5 separate regions of the Homo sapiens genome follow, and regions 2, 3, 4 and 5 are each linked to region 1. Evidence: fine-mapped expression QTL. A gene starts in region 1. Each other region holds a variant in brackets. All regions are shown on one strand. Distances are from middle to middle.

Region 1 (5,106 bases):
TAATCAATGCCAGTTGATTAATCAATTGAAATCAATACCCTGGCTTCTAATCAATAATAGAATCTAGGTAGATTCTAGATTGCAAAATTCTTTTGACTTTTCTGAAAGTTTAAACCTTTTCATAATCAAACACTGGGAAAAAATTAGTTAAATGAATAAATAAATGAGAAAATGAATCGCTTGGGACCTGGGTTACATTCTCTCCCAAGAATCATACAGTACAAAAAGATATGTGGCACTATCTTTTTGAAAGAGGGGTAATGGGATACAGAGTCCCAAAAAGGAAAGGAGGAAGAGCTTACCTTTAGGGTTCAAAGTAAATATTTTGGCCTGTAAACAATTCTAAGCAATTTAAAGACAACCAATAACTAGAATCAGACTAGAGAGAAAAAGGTAGGAGGTAAGTTCCAACTATATTGGAAAGATAAGCTGCTAAGAATTTGCTTTTTCAGGCTCCAAGATCTAAGGACACAGTCCTTCCCCCTCTTTCACTACCACCACCCTGTCCTGCACCCCAGGGTCTGAGTTAAAGCAATGAAAGCATGTGATTTCATGTTCAAGGTTATACCTCTAATATCTCTTAAGGGAGAGCAATCTCAATACCCTGGTTTCAGTTCAGATACGCTGTAACAGCTGTCTTGTGAACTGTCTATTAAGGCTTACATCTTTGAGCTTGCAAATATAGTATAAAAGTTCAAACTCCACTACTGTTTTTACCAGGAAAGTACAGTTCTTAGCTTTTTGCCCAGCTTACCTCTCTCACAAGTCAATATAGACGTTAATGAGTCATTGTTCTAGAGGTATCTTTCTAATTCTGAGAAGCTTGCCTACTTCTTTTAAATGTTCTTAGTTCAGTCAATGAAAATCTCACATTATAAAGCCATCGGAAATGGTAAACTAAAACAATCATGTTTGCTCTTTAGTGAACCATACTTCCTATTAAGAAGGGGTCACTGGCCAGGCACAGTGGCTCATGCCTGTAATCCCAGCACTTTGGAAGGCCGAGGTGGGAGGATCACTTGAGGTCAGGAGTTCGAGACCAGCCTGGGCAACATGGCAAAACCCCATCTCTACCAAAGATACAAAAATTAGCCGGGCATGGTGGTGTACACCTGTAATTCCAGCTACTCAGGAGGCTGAGGCACAAGAATCCCTTGAACCCGGGAGATGGAGGTTGCAGTGAGCAGAGATGGTGCCACTCCAGCTTGGGTGACAAAGTGAGACTCTTGTCTCAAAAAAAGAAAGAATGGGTCATTACTATTTACCTTGAGTATTTGGGTGCTAATAAACAGATATCTGATGATACCTGGGGCAAGAACTGAGTTCCTCCCCTCTCATTGCCTTAGTTCTGTGCATCCCAGGGTAGTATTCAACACTCAGTGTTTCCTCTGACAAACTAGATGCTTCCCAAAACAAAAACAAACTCATTTTTAGAATTCTGTTATATTATTTGCTTCTTGTTTTTATTTTTTGTGGGGAGTGAACTGGTAAACCCAGTGGACTTTCTTAACACTCTTCTAAGTCATTCAAACTGTCAGTCAAAACCCACCTATTTCTCAGGCTAGTAGAATCCCACTATAAAGTGATTTATAAACTGGATTTATATAAATTGGGGGATCAATTGCCCCTCCCAAACAATCATCTCCTATAAAAGATTAATAAAACAACATCTGGTTAAGAACACTGACACTACATTATAAAGGGTTGCCCCTGTACTTAGACTAGCATGAGGTACACATCTAGAATGCCCAGTTAGCCAAACGGTCTTGACGACCATGCAGACTTTCATATGCCAACAAAGCCGGTGCAGTGTACTTTTCCAAAAGTGCTCCAATTCTCCTTTTGGACAACTTTCTTAAACGTTATTTACCAAGCTAATAAAATGTATTCTCAATGGACTTTTTACTCTGCTTACATCTTTGTTCTTACTCATCCCAAAGCAAAGAATGGAAAAAAAATGAGTTGTACATTTAGCCGGGGAAGGGAAAGGCAAGTACTGAGGGGCTCCTTTTTCATTTACTGATGCCAAAACTGAGGCTGTGGAAGATAAGTTACGTCCCTGATGTCATCCAAGTAGTGGATACCGGAACCAGGAATTGCACAGAATTGTCCAGCTCCAAAACCCAAGCACCTTGCTTGGGACCCACTGGGGTTGCAGTGAAGGTGGGGGGCTCAGAGGTGACTGCACACGGGTCATGCATAGCCACAGTCATTATATGGCCAGAGTTTTAAACATTATTTTGTTCTGTCTTCACCATAGACTTCATCATCAATCATAACTGATAAGGAAAATTACACTTAGCTGAAAAGCCAAGTCCCGTGCTAGGGAGGCATTTTCTGTATGTTATTTCTATTTCCAATAAAACAATTCTTTAAAAAGAAAAACTTATTATCTCCATCTTTCAGATGGAAAGACTGAGGTTTAGTAGGCTTAAATAATTTGCCCGAGGTCACTCACTAGCCAAGGCCAGAACTGGGATTTAAATCCACAAATATTCCAAAGTCCTTTTGTTTCTGTATCACTTCACAGGGAGCTGCTTCCACCTGTCTCCTGTGCCCTTGGTTTCTGCTAATCCTACATTCCAAGAATAAAAGTCTTCCTATGCGTTCCTAGGCAGAAGCCAAGTTTCCCTGCTTTGGGCACGTTCAAAATAGAAGGTATTTTCCGCTTCTCTTGCTTCTGAGCACCCACGAAATCAACACATCCCCAAAACACGCGTTGAGGGAGTAAGGGAAAGTGTCCTGCACCCGCCACCCTCCCGCGCTAAGAGCGGCAGAGGACCCCACAGCTTCGTACTTCCCCGGAGGAGCTCCTGGAGTAGGAGACGGCTTCTAGCCTGGAAGAACCCCGGGTGCGACAGTTGTGCCAGGAAACTTCAAGAGTATTCCCTCGGCTGGGCGCACGCAGTACATCCCCAATGCTCCAATTTGAACTTTGACTCGGCCACGACCACCCCACTCCAGTCTCACTCTACGGTGCTTTCTCCCCTGTTGGTGCTGAGGGCTTTTGAGACTACCTGCCCCGCGCTCCCTAAGTCCGAGGGACCGAGGCGAGGACCTGTCCCGCTGAGCTGGCACGACCCACGCAGGGCAGGCGGCACTTACGCGGCGCAGTCGGTGCTCCTCCCTGAGCCGCGGCGCGCAAGGACCCCAGCCGGTTGTCCTTGCAGCGCTTCCCAAATCAGGCAGAAGTGAGGCAGCCCCACCCAGTCACGAGGACCCTGCAGAACTCGAGCCTTTAAGCGCTCCTCTAGGCTCACATGACCCAGACCCACAGGGCAAAAAGTGCGTCGTCGTGTCCCAACCTCCTGGTCCCAGAAACCTGGCCGCATCAAGTCAGCGCTTCCCATGCTGGAAGAAGCAAGCAGCCCCAGGGTGGAATCTTAAAAATTAATGAAGAGCATCGGCGGGGTGCCATTCAGGTTGGTTTGTCCCTTTGTTTTATTTTGATTTTGTCTCCCAGTTTTTAAAAGCTGCTATCTTAAAATTTCAACCCTGTATTTTGAAATTATTTCTGCACTCTAGGACTTACTTGCAAGCCCAGGATTTACATTTGGAAAGCGAGTGGTGTTTGATTCCCACTGTTTAAAAAGGCAACACACGTTCGCTGATGGTCTACATTCCAGCTGCACTAGCAGTAAGCTCGCACCAAGTGCCACTGTCCTGCCAAGCACTCTCCTGAATCACTGCGCTGGAGTCTCAGAGCCACCTGATGTGTTCTGTACCATTATACCCATTTTGCAATTGGGGGACACAAACTAAGTGAGGTTAAGTAACCCATCCAGGGTCACATTGCTTGTAAGTGACCTGAGTGTATATTATTAGCCACCACCAGGTGCTGGGCATCGAGCCAGACAGTACGGGAGCAAGAACTAAAAAAGGCAAGGAGGTTGCAATGGCAAGTAGATAACACAAAATAAAGGAGGGTCATCATTATCAGCAACAGCAGCGTCAACTGCCAGACAGGTGGGAGAGGCCACGGGGAATCTTCTGCACTGTCCCGGGCCAACCTCCATCTCCTCACAGCTAGCTGCAGGAGTGAGCCCAGGGAAACCCGCAGTAGAGCAGCCCAGCCAACCCGACAGTCAGGGGGAAAAATTGTTTTAAGCCACTTTCAGTTTCGCGTAGTTTGTTATGCAACTAAGGCTAACTAAAGCACTAGTTTTACGAGCTGGAACAAACTAATGTCACTGAATATCTGTTTTCTCCTAAGTACCTACTTTATTGGGTTGTTGTGAGGACTCACTGAAAAACTATGTGTAAATCACCCAGCACAAAGTATGTGCTCAGTGACTGCAGTCATTCTTTGCTATCATACCTTCCATATGGAAGTACTTCCTACCCACCTAGCTCTTTAAGGAGAAAAATCTGTTTGTGGGAAAATAATTCTTTTAAGGCCAAAATCAGCCCACCTTTAATATATGCAGGACCCAGGGCAAAAGTACAAACAGAGATCTGTAGGCCAGATACCTAAATATTTAAAAGTTATAAACAAAGTTAACAAATGATTAAGTACAATAAGTTCTACCTTCCTACCTAGACAAATATACCTTGGGAATTGACATGAAAGGCCAGATTGAAACTTTGGATGATCTGCACTTAAATATGATGGTGCAGGGAGAGGCGATTTCCAGTTCCTGGTTTGCAGCCACCTCCTCTCTTCCCACAGGGCTCTAGTCCATTGGTGGAAGCTCGGTCAAGCTTCCCAGAAGCAGCTGTCCCCCAGCCACCTCTTGGGCACAAGAGTATGAACACCAGAGTCAGCAATGTTCGCCCATGGGAGTACAGACATTAGCAGATAACACTGCTGCTGGCGTGCAGACCCTTGAAGCAGGCTCAGTGCCATTTGGGGAGGGAATTTGGAATTTGCCTTCTAAAGTGTGGGCCCTGGACAAGGGCTCCTTGGGTCTAAGTATAAGGACAACTACTGGCCAAAGAATACCTGTGCCCACGTGGAACCACTTAAAAACTAAACTGAATTTTACAGTAAACACAGGAGGAGCCATGCTGTAAGCATATTTATTCAAAAACAGGGTGTCCCAAAAGTCTTCCTGCAGTTTTAGTAACCTCAAGGCTATAAATGCTGCAACTTATAAGAACACCATT
Region 2 (5,107 bases), 31 kb before region 1:
AAGAACCAGAAGAAGAGGTTGCTGTTGTAAGTCTTATTCACGGTGAGGAAGCCGGCATAACTCTTCATGTTCAGTCCTGGGAAAGGGCCGACCAAACTCAATTCTCTTCCTAGTGGGGGAAAAAAAATTTACCCAAGGATTACAGAAAACAATAACAACAAAAATGTGAGCCATCTATCTCAGTCTGGATGAAATGGAGTGATTAGATAAGCTAAAAGGGAACTGGTATGACAGGTAGTTCCTTCAGCAAATTCCAGCCTGCCCCTGGCCAATCCCACATAGTCCACGTTCACAATTTAGCCAAGGATATGTGAAAGTTTTAAGCCTTTGGGGAGGGGTGCCCAAATATATTTTATAAGCTGTAATAAGGTTTTTTTTAAGTTCTTTTAAAAAGAAGAAAAGAAAATCTCCTATCATTACACCTTGCATAAACCAAGGTGATCACCTTGGGCCACATGGAAAGGAGCAGGATAAAGTAACCTGACCTGAAACAGTGGGGTGCAAGAGTAACAATGTGGTGAAGCAGCTCTCGGCCTCGCCCCGAGAAGGCCTGTGTCCTTCACGCTCTTGTTTTCATGAAGGCAAAAAGCCTGTCACATCTACTAAGAGGAGTGGGCTGAGGCATATGGGAGTGTGGGTGGCTGTGGACATTGGGGAAAGGTGGACAGTGGTGGACAGTGGGGAGACTGGGAGTGACCTCATGGCTACTCAGGGGGAGCCAAATAGGACAATGGGGCAGTTGTGGGGGCCAGGGGTCCTGGCGTTCTTATGGCACCATTGGGACAGGCACAGGGAAGGAGTAATTGGGGATGCTTAGACAGCCAAGGATGCCCAGGAGTAAAGAATGCTACTAGGAGCTGACATTTACAAGGCCAGAATACCAGGGCTTTACATGATGTGGGAAGTATAATTCTCATTCCCACTTTACAGATAAGAAAGCTGAAGCACAGAGAGGTTAAGTGACTTGCCAGCTAGTAGAGGAGAGCTGGGATTAAACACAGCAGTCAGGCTGCAGAGTTTGTTCCTTCCCCCAGGGCTTTCAACTAGAGTGAGTCAGAAGGTGCAGGTGGCAAGGAGTGGGAAGGGAAGTAGTGGTCAGGAAGGGAGTGGCAAAGGAACAGAAAACAGCAGAATGTGGTGGCGAAGTAAAAGGGAAAGTTTGGGTGAAGAAGAATCCTTTAGTGGTGACAAAGAATGTGTCCCCAGTAGGAACCAGTCACTCAAGAAAAGCGATGTAAGTCTGAGCCATATTAAGTTGGAGACTGGCTAGTAGGTCAGGAAGCTTGACTCCTCACATGCCATCGACTAAAGATGCCTTTGACGGTAGGTGGAGCCCTTAGGCTCTGGAAGGCTAATTGTTAGCATCTTTTCCCAGCTCAGCATTCAGAGACATTGACAGGATAAAATAAGCCAAGGTGACAATATTAACACTCAAGGGAATAGATGCTACAAGTCAGGGTCCTGACTGCAAGGGCTGGTTGCTAAACTTTTACCAGCACACTGCTGTTTTGGGACCACTAGTTCCTATTTTACAAGGCCAGAATACCAGGGCTTTACATGATGTGGGAAGTATAGTTCTCATTCCCACTTTACAGATAAGAAAGCTGAAGCACAGAGAGGTTAAGTGACTTGCCAGCTAGTAGAGGAGAGCTGGGATTAAACACAGCAGTCAGGCTGCAGAGTTTGTTCCTTCCCCCAGGGCTTTCAACTAGAGTGAGTCAGAAGGTGCAGGTGGCAAGGAGTGGGAAGGGAAGTAGTGGCATGCCTCTTAGCTGAGCATGGTGGCAGTGCTTGTAGTCCCAGCAACTCGGGAGGCTGAGGTGGGAGGATCACTTGAGCCCAGGAGGTCAAGGCTGCAGTGAGCCATGATCATGCCACTGCACTCCAGCCTGGATAACACAG[C/G]GAGACCCTGTCTCAAAAAAAAAACATATATATAGGCATGCCTCTCAAAAGGAAAACCTCTCATCTAGACCACACAGTTCCTTTGCTGATCCTAGTGCTCCTATAGACCAGCTGGTGACCCACCATACAGGCATTTAACCTCCCTGTTCTTCAGTTTCTCCTCTATGGAAGATGTACTGCCTGTGGGCCACCTGGATTAAAAGAGCCCCCACATGTAAAATCTATATAAAGAAGCTGGCAGGTAGGGAGCAGAACTACTGTTGCTGTCTGTGAAATGCACCTGCTGACTAGGAACAGGGAGCACCTCTGAGCAGAGGAGGTCATGGGGACAAAAGAAAGGTCTCAACAGGTGGTCCTTGAGGGTCCTGTTAGGCTAGCACAATAGAAGAGCATGGGTTTCCTAGCCTGACAGACCTGGGTTTGGAATCCTAACTAGATTAGGACTCCCCAGCAAGTTGCTCCATCTCTCTGAGCCTCTTTCCTTTTATGCAAAATATAAATACTGATTCCGCTATCCTGGGCTTTCTGTGAGGATCAAACAACAAAAATGCATATGAACCCTTAGCCTAGCACTGCACATAAAATATGGGTTCAGTCAATTGGAAGGGAAAGTTATCATTAGCCTTTGGCCACTCCAAGTGAAGTCTAGAAGAATTTCCTTTTTCTGGCTCAGCCTGGTTCTCCCAGGGAAGATTGCTTAATGCAACCTCTGTTGGTCTTCACATTCTGTTCCCAATGAGGTCTATCCCTCCTCCATCAGAAAAAAAGCCAGAGAAAAAGAGAGAGAGGTGAGGATCTTATGAGAAAGAAAAGGGAGGTGTTTGGGGAAAGTGGTTTTTGCCACTCCTCCCCTCCCACTCTTCCCGCCATCTGTCGTTTTTCTTCTCCCTTTCTTCACTTCCACTCTTAATTAGCCCAGAGAAAGATCACCCCCCAGGGCTGGGCAGCCTTTAAAATGCTTTTGAAATATTTTTAGCAAAACTATTAATCTTCTCAAAATCAAACAGATACCACCCCCTGCCTCCCAAAAAAAAAAAGGAGAGTAGAGAAGTAAAAACTGTGGATTGGAAATGAGTGAGATGTGGACCACAGAGAGGTAAATGGGAAGAAGAGGATTTGAGAAAGACAACACAAAAATGAGAAAGGTCAAAGTATAATGAGAAAAAGAGAAAATATATAATAGAAAGGAGCTGGAGGGAATGGAACAGAGGAAAGGATGATTCAATCAATCTATCTCTCCCAAGACCAGCACCACACAGGGTCCACAGACTGCTCTCAAATGATTCAGATGTTCACTCATCCCTCCCTTCCTGAGGATGCCAAAGTAGCTTCTCTACTACCTTTTACTTGAGTATGTTTCAGACCTTCCCTCCTAGGTCAGGAGGTTGGAAAGTGGGGAATTTGTGTTATTTAACTTTGCATACCTTGGGACTCGGCATGCTGACTTACACACCTAAGACATTCAATAAATACTTTTTAATGAATGAATGTTAACAAATGAATGGATGAACAAGTCAATAAATGAATGAACTAAAACAAGCCCTACTGACAAGGCACCAAGATTGGCTTATTTCTACAAAAACCTCCTAAGGCAGACCTTGCTAAAAGATCTTAAGAAATTTAGAACTTTTCTCTAGCCCATAAAAAAAGTTTTGCCCTGTTTCAAATTTTAAATTTCCACTAACTAAATCCCAGTAAAATAATTTAAAATGTCATCAACTAAAATGACTTTTTATATTTTCAAATGTCCTGTGCATCCTTCTATTAATGGAATGTGGAAAACAAACTCCCAAGATGGAGGAGTTTCTATCTTTCCAGCACCATGACTCACAATACAAATGTTTAGAACAGTTTTAAAAAGGAAAAGGTTTTCTTTGAAGTGATTTTACTTCCTCCTTGTTTTTTACTGCTGCAACCAATGTTTGTGATATTAACACTTTCAAAAACATTGGAATGTGACCAACAAAGGGCTTGAACCAGCTAATCAGCATGCATGCCAGATTCACAAACACTCAAGTTATCACCAGTGTGGACAGACATTATCAGATCATAAGTAACAATAAATTAGGACCTACCAGTAAAATAGTCTTTAAAGTGTGAAAATGCAGTGTTTATAAACAAGCTAAAATGTGCCTCCTACTTCATTTTGTTTCAGGGAGTAAAGATTTATTCTAGCTTCAGAGAAAGTAAACATGCAATTACAATTACATAAAACTAAGCCAGCTAAATGAGGATTTAAAAATTAAAAATTTCCCTTGTTTTTTTGCGAGCTACTGTTTATCTCGAAAATGTTCCATTGCAATAATAAGACTCACGTTCCTAGGGTTTTGACAGACTCGATAAACAAAAGGGATTTAGGGGAGTGAGCTGACCATCTGTCCAGAGCTTCCTGAACTTTCAGCAAAGCGGATGAATAAAATTATCCTTAATTATGTTGTCAGGGCTACATTTGAATACCCAGATGTACCAGATTTTGAATCAGCCACTTAAAATTCTGTTCAAAGAATTTGACTGTGTAACATAACTTCAGGAAGTGATATTATACACAGATTTAATATTTTAAATGTTGTCAATCATCAGATGAAGATCTACCAATCTTGACATGGGAGGGTGGAAGATAAAACTACCTCCCTTGGAATCTTTCTTGGCTGCTGCTAATACCCATAACTGAGAAATGCTCATAGGCAAGAAAGACAAGAACAGGAGAGATGTCAGTAGTCTCTCAGATGGATTTCTCTGTATTCTTTTTACTTGGTTCCACCAGATGTATGATACAGAAACACCATGGTCACTTTCACTTAATGCCTTTGTTTAAGCTGTTTCTCTCATTTGGTACGCACAGACCTTTCGCTATTTACGTAAATCTTACCCGACACTCTGAAGTCCAGAGCTGGTCATACAGCATAGTGGTTCATATCATGGGCTCTGGGGTTGGCCAGTATAGGGTTTAATTCAGAGCTGCTCATATAGCATAGTGGTTCATACCATGGGCCCTGGGGTTGGCCAGTATAGGTTTTAATTCAAGCTCTGCCACTTACTAGTTTTATGGCCCTAGGCAAGATATTTGATTTCTCCGGGCCTCAGTGTTCTCATTTGTAAAATGGGAACAATGCTTATGGATTCTTCATTAGGGTTGCTCTGAGAACTACATGAGCTAATGGATGTAAAGCACAATGCCTGGCACATGGTTGGTACCCAAATTTAA
Region 3 (5,107 bases), 33 kb after region 1:
TTGAAAAAAAGACCAGACGGGCGCGGTGGCTCATGCCTGTAATCCCAGCACTTTGGGAGGCCGAGGCGGGAAGATCACAAGGTCAGGAGATCAAGACCATCCTGACTAACACGGTGAAACCCCGTCTCTACTAAAAATACAAAAAATTAGCCAGGCGTGGTGGTGGGCGCCTGTAGTCCCAGCTACTCGGGAGGCTGAGGCAGGAGAATGGTGTGAACCTGGGAGGCGGAGCTTACAGTGAGCCAAGATCGCGCCACTGCACTCCAGCCTAGGCGACAGAGCAAGACTCCGTCTCAAGAAAAAAAAAACAGATAAAAGAAAAAAAAGACCATGACTATTTATTTATTCTGACTACAAAGATCCAGAAGAGAAGTCAAGAAGGCCAATAGGTCCTGAGCAGGATAAATAAAAATAAAGTCACATTTAGATACACTGTAGGAAAGCTTCAGATTCCCCCAAACAGAGAGGAAAAAGAAAAAAAAATGCCAAAAAGAAATAATAACTAGATTAATAGTGGACTTCTTATTGGCAGGAAAACATGTCAGAACACAATGGGTATGTCTTCATTAGCAGTATGTCTCTTCAAATTGCTGAAGGAAATTAACTGTCAGCTTGAATCCTATACAAATCTAACTTTGATTCCAAAGGAAAGACAAAGTAAAGACATTTATAGACAAAAATTGAAAGGGATTACTACTAAGACACCCTTACAAAGAAGCTTTAAAAGGGTATTTTTTAGGAAGAAAAAAGAATACAGAAGGAAGATCTAATATACAAGAAAGAATTTTGAGCCAAGAAAATGGGAAACTTCTGTTTAAACCTAAATTAACGTTGACAGTATAAAACAACAAATAATGGCTAACTTCTGGTGTTTAAAAAACGAGATTGAGCTGAAATACTAGAAGGAAGAGCATATAAATAGGAAGCCAGGAAGGAAAGGGAAAGCAACCTCTTGCTCTTTCATCATTGGTCAGAATGGTAAGAATATGGATAAACATTAGGCTTCGTTAGCTTATATGTTAAAATGCCTAGGTTAACTTCTAAATGAATAGAAACAGTGTTTATAACTTCCAAATAAATACAGAGAAAATGGGAATGAAAAAAAATCATTTAATACAAAAGAAAGCAAGAAAGAGAGGGGAAAAAATATAGATGGAAGAGGCAAATATAAAATAGTTATCTCCTTAAGATAAAATATTTTTAGTTTAGTGAACATTGTCTTCTAGCACAGAGACACTAAAAAATTTACTCACTGGGAAACTTATTCCTTTCTAATCTTCAGATTGCTTAAAGTAATTTATACCTATATAGGAGATCTTTTTCTTTTTTCTTTCTTTTTTTGTTTTATTTTGTTTTGTTTTGTTTTGTTTTGTTTTGTTTTGAGACAGAGTCTCACTCTGTCATCCAGGCTGGAGTGCAGTGGTGCTATCTCTGCTCACTGCAACCTCTGCCTCCCGGGTTCAAGCAATTCTCCTGCCGCAATCTCCTGAGTAGCTGGGATTACAGGTGCACACCACAATGCTGGGCTAATTTTTGTATTTTTAGTAGAGATGGGGTTTCACCATGTTGGCCAGCCTGGTCTCAAACTCCTGACCTCAAGTCATCTGCCTGCCTTGGCCTCCCACAGTGCTGGGATTACAGGCATGACCCACCGTGCCTGGCCCCCTCACTTTTTTTTTTTTAATTTACTGGCTTTTCCTCTGTCCCCTCATTTTTTCTCTCTCTCTTTTCCTTCTTCCATCTGTTTATCTATCTGTCCATCTATTAATATCTACCTATTTATCTATCTGTCCATCCATCCATCTGTGCAGTCATCCATCCATCCATCCACTTTACCAGCTATACCCCAACCCTCTTTACTTCTAAACACCTACCCATCTCATTATGCTCCCACCTATCTATCTGTTCTTTCATTCATTCACTTTATAACCAAAATCTTTTTTTCCAACCCAGACCTCTCTCCAAACCTTGCTACTTGACATCTCCTTAGACATTTCATAGGTGCCTCAAACTTCACATGTCCGAAACACAACCCTCGGTTCCATCCCCACACAAAGTTCCCCCTCCCCAAGCCCTCACCATCACAGCAAGTGGCACCACCAGCCATTTAACTGCTCAGCTAAAAACCTAGGAGTCACCTTGATGATTGTTTATCTCATGCCTCACATTCCATCATCAGCAAGTGTTGTCAGATTCTACCCTAAGTCTGATGGTGTCTTGCCATCTCCACTGCTACTATCCTCTGTCCACACCATCAGCCTTTCTTTGAAACCACTGGAATAGTCACATAGCCACCGTGCACCCTGCTCTTCTTACTATCCTTTTCCATAGCTGCCAAAGTGATCTTTTCAGTATGAATCAGAACATGTTATCCCCTTCCTAAAAGCTTCTGTGGCTTCCCATTGTGTCTAGAAATAAACAGAAAGTCTCCACTATGACCCACGTGGCTGCTAGGATCTGACATCTACTCAGCCTCTGACCTGGTCTTCCTCTGCGTGCGGTTTCATTCCTTTGACGCCAGCTCCACTGGCCGCCTTTCCTGTTCCTCTAACATGCCCAGCTCGTGTCTGACTCAGCCCTTTAAATCTGCTGTTCCCTCCTCCAGACCTGCAAGATCAAGTCTCTGCTGAAATGTCACATCCTCCGAGAGAC[G/T]TTGCCTGACATGCTGTTTTATGTTCATCTGAACACATTTTTCAGCATTTGAAGTTATCTTTTTAAAAAAAGCAGTTCATTGTCTGTGCCTCTTAAGGGCAGGGACTTTGTTTATTGTTATATTCTCAGGGTCTATACCTATGCCTGGATCATAGTAGGGGCTCAGTTATTGTTTGTTGAATGACTGTTTGGCATTAATTAATTAATTTCACAACTTGGAGTGGAATTAGCCATCTGCATTCATATGAAAAATGACTTAAATCCCTATGATATATCAAATTAAGGCAAATAATCAGCCAATAAAAATGGGTTTGCCACAAATTTGACCAATCAAAGGTTAACTACTATGTAAAGAGTTATTACAAACTAATAAAAAGAACACTAACACACCATTTAAGGGACATTATAGTCCAGGCAGGACCCCACCTACCAGAGCTAACCAGCATTTGCACCTCCTCAGTTATGGTTTTGAGGTCTCCTGCCTCCTTAGGATTATAGGGGACCCAGCATCTCTCTTGGTGTCAGAAAACAGGAGGTGATCCTCCAATATCATGCTGACACACTTACAGTCCTCATGGACCCTTTGAAAACAGCCCCTCCATTTTCTTTTTGCCAAGCTTGGGCATAAGGCTTATTTGTGTTAGGCCATGCTGCCATCTTGGGAGAACCCTTCAGAAGGCTCCATCCCCTCACACAGCACTGCATGAGAGTGGGCATGGGATGCCATCCTTAAGAACCACCCCATCCCACGCCAAGTCATGAGGAAGAGTGCTCCCTTCACTCTTTGCTAGATCAGTTCTGCCTTCCTTCCCACACAGTGTCAGCCTTCTTCAGTCAGCCTTGTTGAAGAAAAGACTCCAGAATGCTCTGCACAGAAACTCAGGCTGAAGTTTTGCAGTCTGAGAATTTTTTGACCACTCTCAGATGCTAGAAAATCCAGGAACCCAGACTCAACACAAATTCTTCAGGAGTGAGAAGGAAAGATTCTGATACTTGTCCTAAGTCTTCTTCATAAGCAAGAACAAGGCAGATGTTAGTAACACAAATGATTATTTTGCTATATATCCTTTGCCAAATAGAATTACTCTGATATATGTAAATAAATATTCTCCTTTTTCTAAGTAGAGAAACCATCAATAATTACCAGGTTTTTTATTTCTCAAATTACAAAATACTTAATAGCTATTCTATTTTATATCAATGCAAAACACGGGTAAGAACTGGACATTTGTGGAGGGGCTATATAGCATTTATGAGGTTCATTTGTTTTCTTATGCTTTGCAAAACTGAGTTAGTGCATGTGAGGATTTATTTATTATTGCAAGCAAATCAACTTAAGTATTACAAACAAAAAATCTGGTCACTGTTATTTTGAAAGCATTAAGATAACTTACATTGCTAAGCATTCTATTGATCTTTTGCTATTTGTCTTGTATTTTCAAATGATTATATTTCCCTGCAGACAGTGGAAATATCAATGAGAAATAAGATGTCCTTTCATCAATGATGTAGGTTATTTCATTTCCAAATATTCACATATTATGCTTACATGTGTTTCATTCTTAATATTCCGAAGTCAATCTGTTCCCCAATAGTTTTTTTATTAGAAAGGAAAATATTTCACATCAAACATTTTAATAATATTGTGAATCAAATTTAGAATATTTTTAAAATGTGATAACGTACCAATAGTGACATCTAGGCCGGGTGTGGTGGCTCACGCCTGTAATCCCAGCACTTTGGGAAGCTGAGGCGGGCAGATCACAAGGTCAGGACAGATTGAGACCGTCCTGACTAACACGGTGAAACCCTATCTCTACTAAAAATACAAAAAATTAGCCAGGCGTGGTGGCACATGCCTGTAGTCCCAGCTACTCAGGAGGCTGAGGCAGGAGAATCACTTGAACCTAGGAGGCGGAGGTTGCAGTGAGCCGAGATCGCGCCACTGCACTGGGCGACAGAGCGACAGAGCGACAGAGCAACAGAGCAAGACTCCATCTCAAAAAAAAAAAAGTCATCTAAATTGATATAAAAATGACTTAAATCTGTATAAATCAAATTAAGGCAAATGATGAGCCAATAAAAATACCTTTGGCACAAATTTGACCAATTAAAAGTTATTATAATTACTATGTAAAGAGTTATTACAAACTAATAAGAAGAACACTAACACACTAATTAAGGGGCACTAGAGTCCAGTGATTAAGAGCTCAGGCTCTGGAGTTAGAGCTGGGTTCAAATCCAGGCCCTGTCACATTCTGTGTGATGTTGGACAAGACTCGTATCATCCGTATACCTCTTGGAGTTCTAATTTGTAATATGGAGATAATAAGCATGACTGCTTGCAGTGTAATTGAAAAGAGTACGTAAGATCATACATAAACAACTCTTGGTACCAATCACTGGTACCCAGTACTTACTATTATTTTGCCAAAAGAGATGAATAGGCAGTTTG
Region 4 (5,107 bases), 160 kb after region 1:
GAGTTGCTTGTTTAATAAATAATAGAGGATTCACAAAGCAGCAAATGTAGAAGAGATGTGATGGGAAGGCAAAATTCCTTTGTGAGGTGTCACTTAAGAGAGTGCTGATTGGTCAGAAGATGAGTATAAACTGAGAGGAGGGGCTGTGGCAGGAAAGGGGGACCCTGGGTGTTAAAGCCCAAGGCGATAGAGCACATGCTGAATGAACTGTTATATCCTTGCCCTGTGACACATTCATCCCCAGGAACAAATGTCCAGGGAATCTTGTGTTCAAGGTGATTTTTCAAGTGTATTGTTTATTATTTAAATGTAGCAAATCACTTAATCCAGTGTAATCAGTATGTAAGAATTGCCGTGAACTCCCTCCTGTCCCAGTAGCTTTGTTAGCATCCTTGAGGGCTGACAGCAAACTTAATCAGGCCAGCTTGAGTGGAATGGCTTTGGGTGATTTGCATTCTGCAGAATTGCCAGATTCCTGTCCTCTAACACAATAATGAGTGTTTCCATCCAGTGGTGTGAAGCATGTGGAATAATTAGCTCTCAGCGTTAAAGATGTGACTAGTAACGTCCAAGCCTCCTTCCTCTTAAGAGTATGATTTTCTTATGGTGACATTTTCAAGAGGACATCCGTAATCTCTCATTTTGGGGACAGCAGGAAAGAGATGTGCCTGGATATATCCTATCAGTGTTCGCTGATTCGCCTTCAGCTAAATCATTTAACCAGACCAAGGGAACTGAGATTTGAGAAGCTCAGTTGTCTGTAAATCTAATGGTTCCCAACTTACAATCACTTCAGATGTTTTGAGGGGTCTGCAGCCTCTTTTATACATTTTTAAAAGCCTAATAAAAAAGCTAATGGAATAATTATCTATCAGTAACTACATAATAAGTTCAGTTTGTTTTGGAGATCAGATCTTTCAAATCATCCAGTTTGAAGGGAAAGAATAAAAGGAGTCTATGAGTTACAAGGTTGGTGAGTATGATTAGTCAACATCAATTTACAAGTAATGGTATTCCTACTGTGGTGAACCGAATAATGGTCCCTGCAAACATGTCTCTGTTCTAATGTCTGGACCCTGTGAATATGTTGTTACATGTCAAGTGGGAATTAAGATTTCAGATGAAGTAAGATTGCTAACCAGGTGACCTTGATTGAGATGGGCAAATTACCCTGGATTATCCGAGTGGGCCAAGTGTAATCACAAGAGCCCATTTAAGGCAAAGTAGAGTGTGAGAGTCAGAGAGTCATTGAAGGATGCTCTGCTGCTGGGTTTTGAAAAAGAGAGGAAGGGACCAGGAGTCAAGGAAGGTGGACAAAATAGATTCTTCCTTAGCGTCTCCACCCAGCTGTTGAATTTGCCTCCTGGGCACACAGGAAGTCTGCATGCCCAGCCCTTCACATCCAATTGGGGCCATGTGGAATGTGGCCCAGGTGATGTTGCTCAGAAAGAACCCAGCCCAGAAAACACCTTGATTTGAGCCTAATGAGACCTATTTTGAATTTTTGACTTCCATAATTCAAGATATTAAATTCTTGTTTTTTTAAGCCACTGAGTTTGTGCTAATCTATTAAAGCAGCAGTAGAAAACTAATGCATTTAGCACTGCATCTTTCTGGATTTTTGGTCATTTTAAATAAATCAGCTAATAGTGTCTACTGGGTATCTCGGCATACAAATAACTGTGTCAAAGGAGTTGGAAAAGTATGGAGAATGTAGAATAAATCCAAACTCTAATTGTTGTCTACAAGCTCCTGCTTTTTCTCTCCTTCCTGTCTTTCCAGCCTTACCTTATGTTACGCTGCACTCTCTCAGCTCCCACTCCTCCAGCTGTCTTTCCATTCCTCAGACTTCCTGCCGTGGGCCCTTGGCTCATGCTGTTTCCTCTGCCTTGAATACCCTTATTCCAGATCTTCCAAGAACCGGCTTCTTCCCATCTTTTAGGCCTTAGCTTAACCCTTCCTCCTCTGTTAGTCAGAAGAGTCTAAGTGCTATCACTTACAACCCAATATCCTAGTGGTTTAAAACAATAAAGCACGTGTCCCTCACGTCACAGTGCAAGGTGGTTGGGGTGTGTGTGTGTGTGTGTGTTGGGATAGGAATTGGGATTCTGCTTTGTTCCACACAGCCACCAACCATTCCAGCTTGTGACCTCTCTTTCCCCCGGTGCCTTCTCGGAATCCTTAGCAGGATCTCTGCAGTCACCTGCTGAGGAGCAAGGAATGCGTGGAGGATTGTGTGGGCTGGGCCTGGAATGAACATCACCTGGGCCACATTCCATATGGCCTCACCTGGATGTGAAGGGCTGGGCATGTAGTCTTCCTGTGTGCCCAGGAGGAAAATTCAGTAGTTGGGTGGATAATAGCCCTGTTCTGCCCTTCCTCAGAGATGCCTCTTATAACCGTGCTAAGCAGATCTGTCTCATTAGCCTCTATGAAAACACCTTATTTAGTTCCTCCATTGCACTTTATACTCAATAATTTTTTGGCTTCTTTGTTAATTGTGTTCCTCTCCAAGACCAGAAGGGTGTGAGGATAGGAACATGTCTGTTTTGCTCACTACTATGTGCACAAACCTGGCAATGCAACATCTTGCACAGAGTAGATTACCCACCAAGAATAGTTTATTAGTATGTGATGAATGGATGATGAATGAATGACCCAACAAGTGAATGAATGGAAAGCATAGACCTTGTCTAGAGGGTATCCACTATTATAGCAAGGACAGAATAAATAGGTCATAGTCTTTTACAAGAATAAATTTCAAGAAGCAGCCAAAAGCTTTTTTTTTGTTTTTGTTTTTGTTTTTAGAAATAAAGGACTTTGGCCTACGGTTCAAAAAGTGTTTGGAAAGTCACCGCTCTTTGGGTT[G/T]TAGAATTTGAGTCCAGTCTTCCAGATGAGCAGCCTGAGAGTAGCAGTGCTCTCCTTATTTGGGTTGATTAATTCTGCTCTTGTATTTCTGAGAAAGTGTAGACCCTTTCAGATACCATCCTAACTCTTCCCCCACCCTTCCCTTCTCCACTCATAGAGGACAAAGCATTTGGCTCCTCTCCTCCTACCACCTGTTCCTATTAATATATTCACAGTGGCCCCCGGTGGTGGGAGCATGCCACCTCAGATGAAGGAGTTTTCTAATTTTGCTTCTCCTTTTCTTTCCCATTGTCATTGTCCTTTCTGGCTTAGCATGAGCTAGTGGCATGTGGCAGTCTGAGAAGTGGAATGCCTAACCCAAGGAAATAAATGATGCATAATCAAATCCAGTTGCGTAACTTCGGGAGTTTGTGTTTTCTTCTGTTGATTCACGAAGATCAAGGAGCTGATGGGAATAGGTTCTGGCCTTGCCACCAAATGTGCTTCTCCTCCCATTTTCTGAGTAGGGCTCCAAGGGAGGTGCTGGGCCACTTTGCCACGCAGGCTGGTTGCTGCCTCATCTCCTGCAGGTGAGGGTGGAGACCTCGCGGGCTCATGGGCCCTGCTGTGGCTGTTACATGGATCCAGGTTGTCTAGGGTCTGGGGAATGCTGCTGAAGGGGCCCAAGTGCCTGTACCCTGGAAGCACTGGCCAGGCAGGACTCCCTGCCTCAAATGGGCCTCTCCCACCTTGTTCTGTCTCTCATGGGGCAGGCACATGGCATTTCCTAGGTGGGGGGACCAAGAAGCTGTGGCTGGATTAATTCTTGTGAAGAGTACAATAAACTACATTTAACTTACTTTCCCTTACTTCAACATGGTTACACGGATAAAATACATTAAAATGAACACTAAAATCAAGTATGTGGACAAAGATGTATCAACAGGAATGTTCAGTAATAGAAAAAAAACTGGAAACAACTTATACATTCACATAAGGGAGGAGATAAAAATAAATTATGATACATCCATAGAGTGGAATACTTGAAGCCATTAAAATTGAACATGTAGAAGAATATTGAATGAATATAATCACATTCATGTTTAATTTTTAAAAATCAAGCTGCAAAACAGTGGGTACCATATGATCCTGTATTTGCAATTAAAATGTATACAAATATAAACAATGGAAAATATAAAGATTGAAACGGGATGCTTAGTTCAGTAAATGGGATTATGAGTGATTGTTGTTTTATTCTTAGTGCCCAACGGTAGTTCCCAAATTTTCTGTATTTAATACATATTTGTTTTGAAAGGTGATATAAAATTCTAAAATGGTATTTTAAAAATTAGATGACTGTCTTAGTTCATTTGGGCTGCTATAACAAAAACATCACAGAGTGGGTGGCTTATAAACAACAGAAATTTGTTTCTTACAGGTTTGGTGTCTGGTGAAAACCCATTTCCTGATTCATAAACAGGGCCTGTGTCCTCACTGTGTCCTCACATGGTGGGAGGAGGAAGGTGGTTCTCCAGAGTCTCTTCTAGATGGCACTAATCCCATTTCTGGGGGCTCCACCCTCATGACCTAATCATCTCCCAAAAGCCCCTCCTTCTGACACCATCACATTGGAGGTTAGGATTTCAACATAAGAATTTTAGGGGGATGCAAGCATTCAGTTTATGACATTGACTAAATTCTCCAAATAATTACTTGTTTATTAAAAAGAAAACTATTGAAAGAATTCTTAAACAACAAAACAAGTCATTAATGTGCAATTTAAAAAGCCCCATAACCTGCTTTTCTGTCTGTCCTCAGTACAGATGTTTTCCCTTCCTACTGCACACTTAATAAGTCTCCGAGCCTTGTAGATTCATTGTAGATTCAGCCTTGTTAGCATCTCTTGTATCCAGTCCCTCCATCATATTCTCCCTGCCCCTGCCTTTGTCACCTGTTGATGGGACTCCCTGCCTCCTGGCTTTCACTTACACCGTTCCATTGTCCTTCCTGTCACCGACAACCTGGCAAATGTGATCCATCTTAAGAGGTTCAAGGGCCACGTGTTCTCTTGGAGTCTTTCCTGGCAGTCCCCACTTTTGTCTCCAGAACTGATCCTTCTTTATGCCTCACTCTTTGTTCTGAATCCTCTCACAGAACCTTTTAATCTCTACTGCGCTTCCTGACACTTACTTTGTGCCAGGTACTTTATATTTCTCCCGTATCCTGGCTGTATCCCTGTGAGGATCATAGCCCCACTTCA
Region 5 (5,107 bases), 82 kb before region 1:
ACTATCCCAAGCGCTTTGCCAGCTGCGTGAGTGAACATGCTGTCTGTTTTAGCAGCAGCCACTTTTTGGTGGCATATTTTGTTCTGTTTCTTTATGGAAATATGGTTTATCTATACCACTAAACTCTTTTCTTTTTCTGGCAACCGATTCAGAGTTGAAAAGTTTATGCCAGACACGGTGGCTCACACCTGTAATCCCAGCACTTTGGGAGGCCGAGGCGGGTGGATCACCTGAGGTCAGGAGTTTGAAATCAGCCTGGGCAACATGGTGAAACCCTGTCTCTACTAAAAATACGGAAAAAAAATTAGCCAGGCATGGTGGCATGTGCCTGTAATCTCAGCTACTCAGGAGGCTGAGGCAGGAGAATCACTTGAACCCGGGATGTGGAGGTTGCAGTGAGCCGAGATCGTGCCACTGCATTCCAGCCTGAGCAACAGAGTGAAACTCTGTCTCAAAAAAGAAAAGAAAAGTTTAGAAAATACTGGATTTTGATTTTATTGGAATTCATAGTGGTAAGTTTAGGATACATGGGCAAGAGGGACAGAGAAGTTTAAATATCAAAATGCAGGATCACCTCTAATCAATATATTCTCCTTTATCAGTCAAAACATAAGGAGAGTTTATGTCATCAGGTAAGCTGTTTGTCCCACCTTACCCTCACATGGCTGAGAAAGGAATCATATTCTAGTTAAATTTGTACAGTGAGGCCAGGTGCGGTGGTTCATGCCTGCAATCCTAGCACTTTGGGAGGCCGAGGTGGGCGGATCACCTGAGGTCAGAAGTTTGAGACCAATCTGACCAACACGGAGAAAACTCATCTCTATTAAAAATACAAAATTAGCTGGGCATGGTGGCACATGCCTATAATCCCAGCTACTTGAGAGGCTGAGGCAGGAGAATTGCTTGAACCCAGGAGGTGGAGGTTGCAGTGAGCCAGTCGCACCATTGCACTACAGCTGGGCAACAAGAGCAAAACTCTATCTCAAAAAAAAAAAAAAAAAGTGTGTACAGTGAGAAAATATATCTCCCAAGGGCACAAATAACACATATCAAACTTATCTGCTCTCCTCTCAAAAAAATTCACTCGTTCCATTCCTTAACATCACATTACAGAACATCATCTTTAAGACATGAACGCTAACCTCTTTTTGGTTTAATAAATTTGTGGATAATAAGCACCTAATGGATTATGGACAGGTTTATAGATATATTTTTGATACAGCACTAATCATTCATTCATTCCTGACATCTGCTCCAGGCTGGTGGTGGTATGGGTGTCAGACTGAGAGTCTGCACGTTAGAGTGTGCCATGTACACCTATGGGGGTAAAGACAACGCGTTCTGAGAGCTCAGAGGAGAGGACAAACAGCAGTGCCTTCTGGAGGTCCTCTGAGAAGTCTTGAAGCAGCAAGCACTAAGGGCCACTACATGTCCCCAAGAAAACCAAACACAAGGATGGCTGAAATGCTGGCCTGACCTAGTTAGACTCTTTCTTTCCAAGAAAGTAAGTATTTCATCAAGTTTTGCAGGTTTATAATGGGTTTGTAGACTTGGCATATAATTGGTCTTAAACTATTTTCAACAATGGTTACGTGTCCAACACTGTACTAGAAGCAGGACCCAGAAATGGGCCTCCTAGGTCTGGCATATTCTAAACCACAGTCTAGTTAGGGTGCATTGGCCAGGGACTGCCTGGATAGTATTGCAGATTGTGCACTGAACAATCCTAAGACACACCATTCCTAATATACACATTGTAGAAATGAATATTCAGCATGCCAGCAAATGGCAGTAAAGAGTCTGGTTTTAACTAAGGCAGTATATCAGGACAATTTCTGAAAGATCGAAATAAAGTATCTTGAGGAGAGGATGCCTTTATTCTAATTCATACAAAAATCCTATGGGCTGCCGACTGCCCTGTTTTTTGTTCATTCAAAACAGGATATAGGGAGGAAGTGGATCACTCAGTGGTGGTCTCCCCAGTCATCAGTACAGGCATCCTTCGGAGTTGCCCTAGAGACGATCCCTTGGGCAAAGGCTAACAGCACTGGAGGACCAGAGGAGGAGCTGAGAGCGTAGTACCAGGAAAGAAATAATACACAGGCTGACTTTCCCCATGTCATTTGCTCTTGGTGTCCTCCTTCCCAGTGGGAGTTCCAGGGCCCATGTCTTCTTTGCCTGAACCTCCAGGGCTCCTTTTCTGTGACCTCACTCTCCACTGGCACCTCCACTGGCAGCAAAGGCAGAGCATTTCAACCAGACAGCACAATGGCTTGACTTGACCTACTTCCAAACAGGGACCCTTTCTCATTCATCATTTCAACCTCACACCCTAAGGAGAGACTCAAAACACTGTGATTGGGTAAAGTGAATGAATACAACCATTAGGCAAAATGCATTTTCAGAATAACCAGTTGATTTCATTTATCCCTGACGTCATTGGGATTCATGTAACAAAGCAACACATAAGAGAAATCTGGCTCTTACACACGGCCAGTCATCTTTTTGGCTCTGCAACTCTTCCTTTCTCAAGAAAGGATGAGAAGTGGTGTGTGCCAAAGGGAATTTCATTTTAAGGAATAATCAGGGGAAAGTGGTTAAATTATTTTATTTTATTTTTATTTTTTTGAGACAGAGTTTTTGCTCTGTTGCCCAGGCTGGAGTGCAATGTTGCGATCTTGGCTCACTGCAACCTCTGCCTCCCGGGTTCAAGTGATTCTCACGCCTCAACCTCCCAAGTAGCTGGGATTACAGGCACCCGCCACCATGTCCAGCTAGTTTTTGTATTTTTTAGTAGAGAGAAGGTTTCACCATGTTGGCCAGGCTGGTCTCAAAATCTTGACCTCAGGTGAT[C/T]CACCCGCCTCAGGCTCCCAAAGCACTGGGATTACAGGTATAAGTCACCACAACGGCAAAAGTGGTTAAATTAAAAGGAACAATATAAAACTTTGAATTGGAATCAAACAAAGAAAGGGGCTGTTATTTATGCTAATGACACATCATAAAAGTTAAAAAAAAAAAAAAGGCAGGACTCAAATTACAAATCACTTCTGCTCTGGGTAATCTGAAAGTTCCTAAAATAGTAACTGAAGTAGCTCTCTTACCTTATAATTATTCATGATTTCAGTTAACCATGGCTTAACTGACTGTACTGTATCTTCTCGCAAGTACTTTTCAACTATAGTTCCATCATTAAAAGTCTGATTCCCCACGTGGATGGCTTGTCTCACCTCTGGGAGTGACAAAAATTTCACATAGTAAAGCTGATCCTCAGGTTCCTGGCAGAAGGGGCATTGGAAAGACATAGGGAACATGATTGGTGGCAGGAACAGTATGTTGGGAAAAGCTGTGAATTTCTCATAACATACAACATGGAGAAACGTGACGGGACTATTAACTTGTCGCCATTCTTGAAATTTTAACTCGGAGGTTTTGAGATAATTTAGGTGGAATCTTTTTACTAATTAGAAATCTGAAATACCCTTAAAATACTCTTAAAATACCCAATTTGCAAATACAGGATTTTCCTTTGCAGAAACTAATCTTTTGCAATCTGTGACTCCCATTAGCAACCCCACTAGAGGCAAAGAGAGAGAAAACAAAAGAGATGAGATTATCAAAATCAATTCACTCCTTGTTGGTGGCTCTTTGGAAAGAAGGTCAAATGGATCACAAGGGCCAGGTTGGTGGTGTGCTGGATTTAAAGCTAAGAATTTCTTTTCTGTGTTCTGCTGTTTATTAAAACCACACACATGTATACATGTGCCATGTTGGTGTGCTGCACTTATTAACTCGTCATTTAGCATCAGGTATATCTCCTAATGCTATCCCTCCCCCCTACCCCCACCCCACAACAGTCCCCGGTGTGTGATGTTCCCCATCCTGTGTCCATGTGTATACATATGTAACAAACCTGCACGTTGTGCACATGTACCCTAAAACTTAAAGTATAATAATAATAAAATTAAAAAATAAAAAAAACCGCACACACACACAAAATTGGATTGACTATAATAAAGGGGAAAATATGTCAAATGTGAAAAGAGATGATACTTTATGAAGGACACAAGACAGAAGAAAAGTTGTCCATGAAGCTTATTAAAAAAAAAACTGCAATAAAGTCTCTGTAATAATCATTATACTGAAAGAAAGGAGTAAATGCTTTAAAAAAAAAACAGTTACACAAGGATTAAAAAAACTGTTAAAGTTTGAGTTTGACAACTTTGTGCTTCATCAACAATTTTTACTAACTGTGAATATATTGTTGTAAAGAAAAAAAGGTATCATCACAAATTTTGTTTCTGTCTTGTCTACCACATGTTTTTCTCTTAGTAGAATCTAAATCCAAAACTGCAGCATTGGCGAATTCCACTGAAACTAACGTTATACTTTATTTACAAACTAGTTCATAAATCAGGCAATTTTAAAAACAGAATGCATTGTCATAAGCATTAGACAAAGATTATACAAATTCAAACACCTACTTTGGCTCCTTCTGTTTGACTAATTCTACACAAAAGATATCAACTTTGGCCTACTTTTATGAAACAAACTACTTGAATACTTTGAGAAATATTCCAGAAGGCTTGAAGTGAGGGCCATACTAAATGCATTAAACATCTTAAAAGTAAGACAAAGCAAATATTTTCATTAAGGCTTTGGCAGTTTTGATTATCCAAGCGTCTTAAGTACAGAACAAAGAATGTGGGCATTTTCAAGAGACTCGTAAACAGACTTGAAGCTCTGGGACCTGAGACCCAGAACTCCAATCCCAGCCTGTGTCCTTCACAAAAGTGCCTCTATAACAAGCTCTACTTGGGGGAAATCATGTTCATCAGAAGTTGTTTTGAGTTATCTGAAATATCACACATTCTCAGTGGTCAGATTATAACGTATACAACACTGATGAGGAAAAGATTCTATGGGTTAGTAGACCACATCACGCGGTACAGTTTGGACATGTTGGTCTAGTATAAAGTCATCTATAATATTTCCCAAATCAAAGGAAGTTCGGTTTTGCCAAAAGTTTTAAGCAAACATTATTATGGTTTTTAAAATGTCATTACCGTGCACCGCAAAAAGTTATAGTAATTACTACATCCTGTAACAT

Which allele goes with the higher level. Alleles are on the strand shown, and positions count from the first base shown. SD is a standard deviation of normalised expression in the study named. Not every link is listed here.
With allele G in place of T in region 3, the expression in nucleus accumbens of the gene that starts at base 3,214 in region 1 is higher (moderate effect, 0.42 SD a copy in GTEx).

What was found.
Region 2: its variant is fine-mapped to the expression of CPVL in whole blood (INTERVAL, PIP 0.96).
Region 3: its variant is fine-mapped to the expression of CPVL in nucleus accumbens (GTEx, PIP 0.99).
Region 4: its variant is fine-mapped to the expression of CPVL in hypothalamus (GTEx, PIP above 0.99).
Region 5: its variant is fine-mapped to the expression of CPVL in thyroid (GTEx, PIP above 0.99).

The regions. Positions count from the first base shown.
Region 1 is chr7:29,143,324-29,148,429 of GRCh38, forward strand. It overlaps CPVL (carboxypeptidase vitellogenic like), which reads right to left and starts at 3,214. Exons shown (of 13, transcript NM_031311.5): 1 at 3,106-3,214. It also overlaps a transcript of CHN2 not described here.
Region 2 is chr7:29,112,714-29,117,820 of GRCh38, forward strand. It overlaps CPVL (carboxypeptidase vitellogenic like), which reads right to left. Exons shown (of 13, transcript NM_031311.5): 3 at 1-109. Among named protein-coding and RNA genes, the nearest start is that of CPVL, 31 kb to the right of the region's middle. The variant C/G (reference allele first, on the strand shown) is at 1,903.
Region 3 is chr7:29,175,891-29,180,997 of GRCh38, forward strand. It overlaps a transcript of CPVL not described here and a transcript of CHN2 not described here. Among named protein-coding and RNA genes, the nearest start is that of CHN2, 16 kb to the right of the region's middle. The variant G/T (reference allele first, on the strand shown) is at 2,653.
Region 4 is chr7:29,306,394-29,311,500 of GRCh38, forward strand. The region is part of intron 1 of CHN2 (chimerin 2); the gene reads left to right. Among named protein-coding and RNA genes, the nearest start is that of CHN2-AS1, 100 kb to the left of the region's middle. RefSeq lists an enhancer at 3,439-4,007. The variant G/T (reference allele first, on the strand shown) is at 2,869.
Region 5 is chr7:29,060,960-29,066,066 of GRCh38, forward strand. CPVL (carboxypeptidase vitellogenic like) reads right to left here. Exons shown (of 13, transcript NM_031311.5): 10 at 5,064-5,107; 11 at 3,102-3,275. Among named protein-coding and RNA genes, the nearest start is that of CPVL-AS1, 17 kb to the right of the region's middle. The variant C/T (reference allele first, on the strand shown) is at 2,854.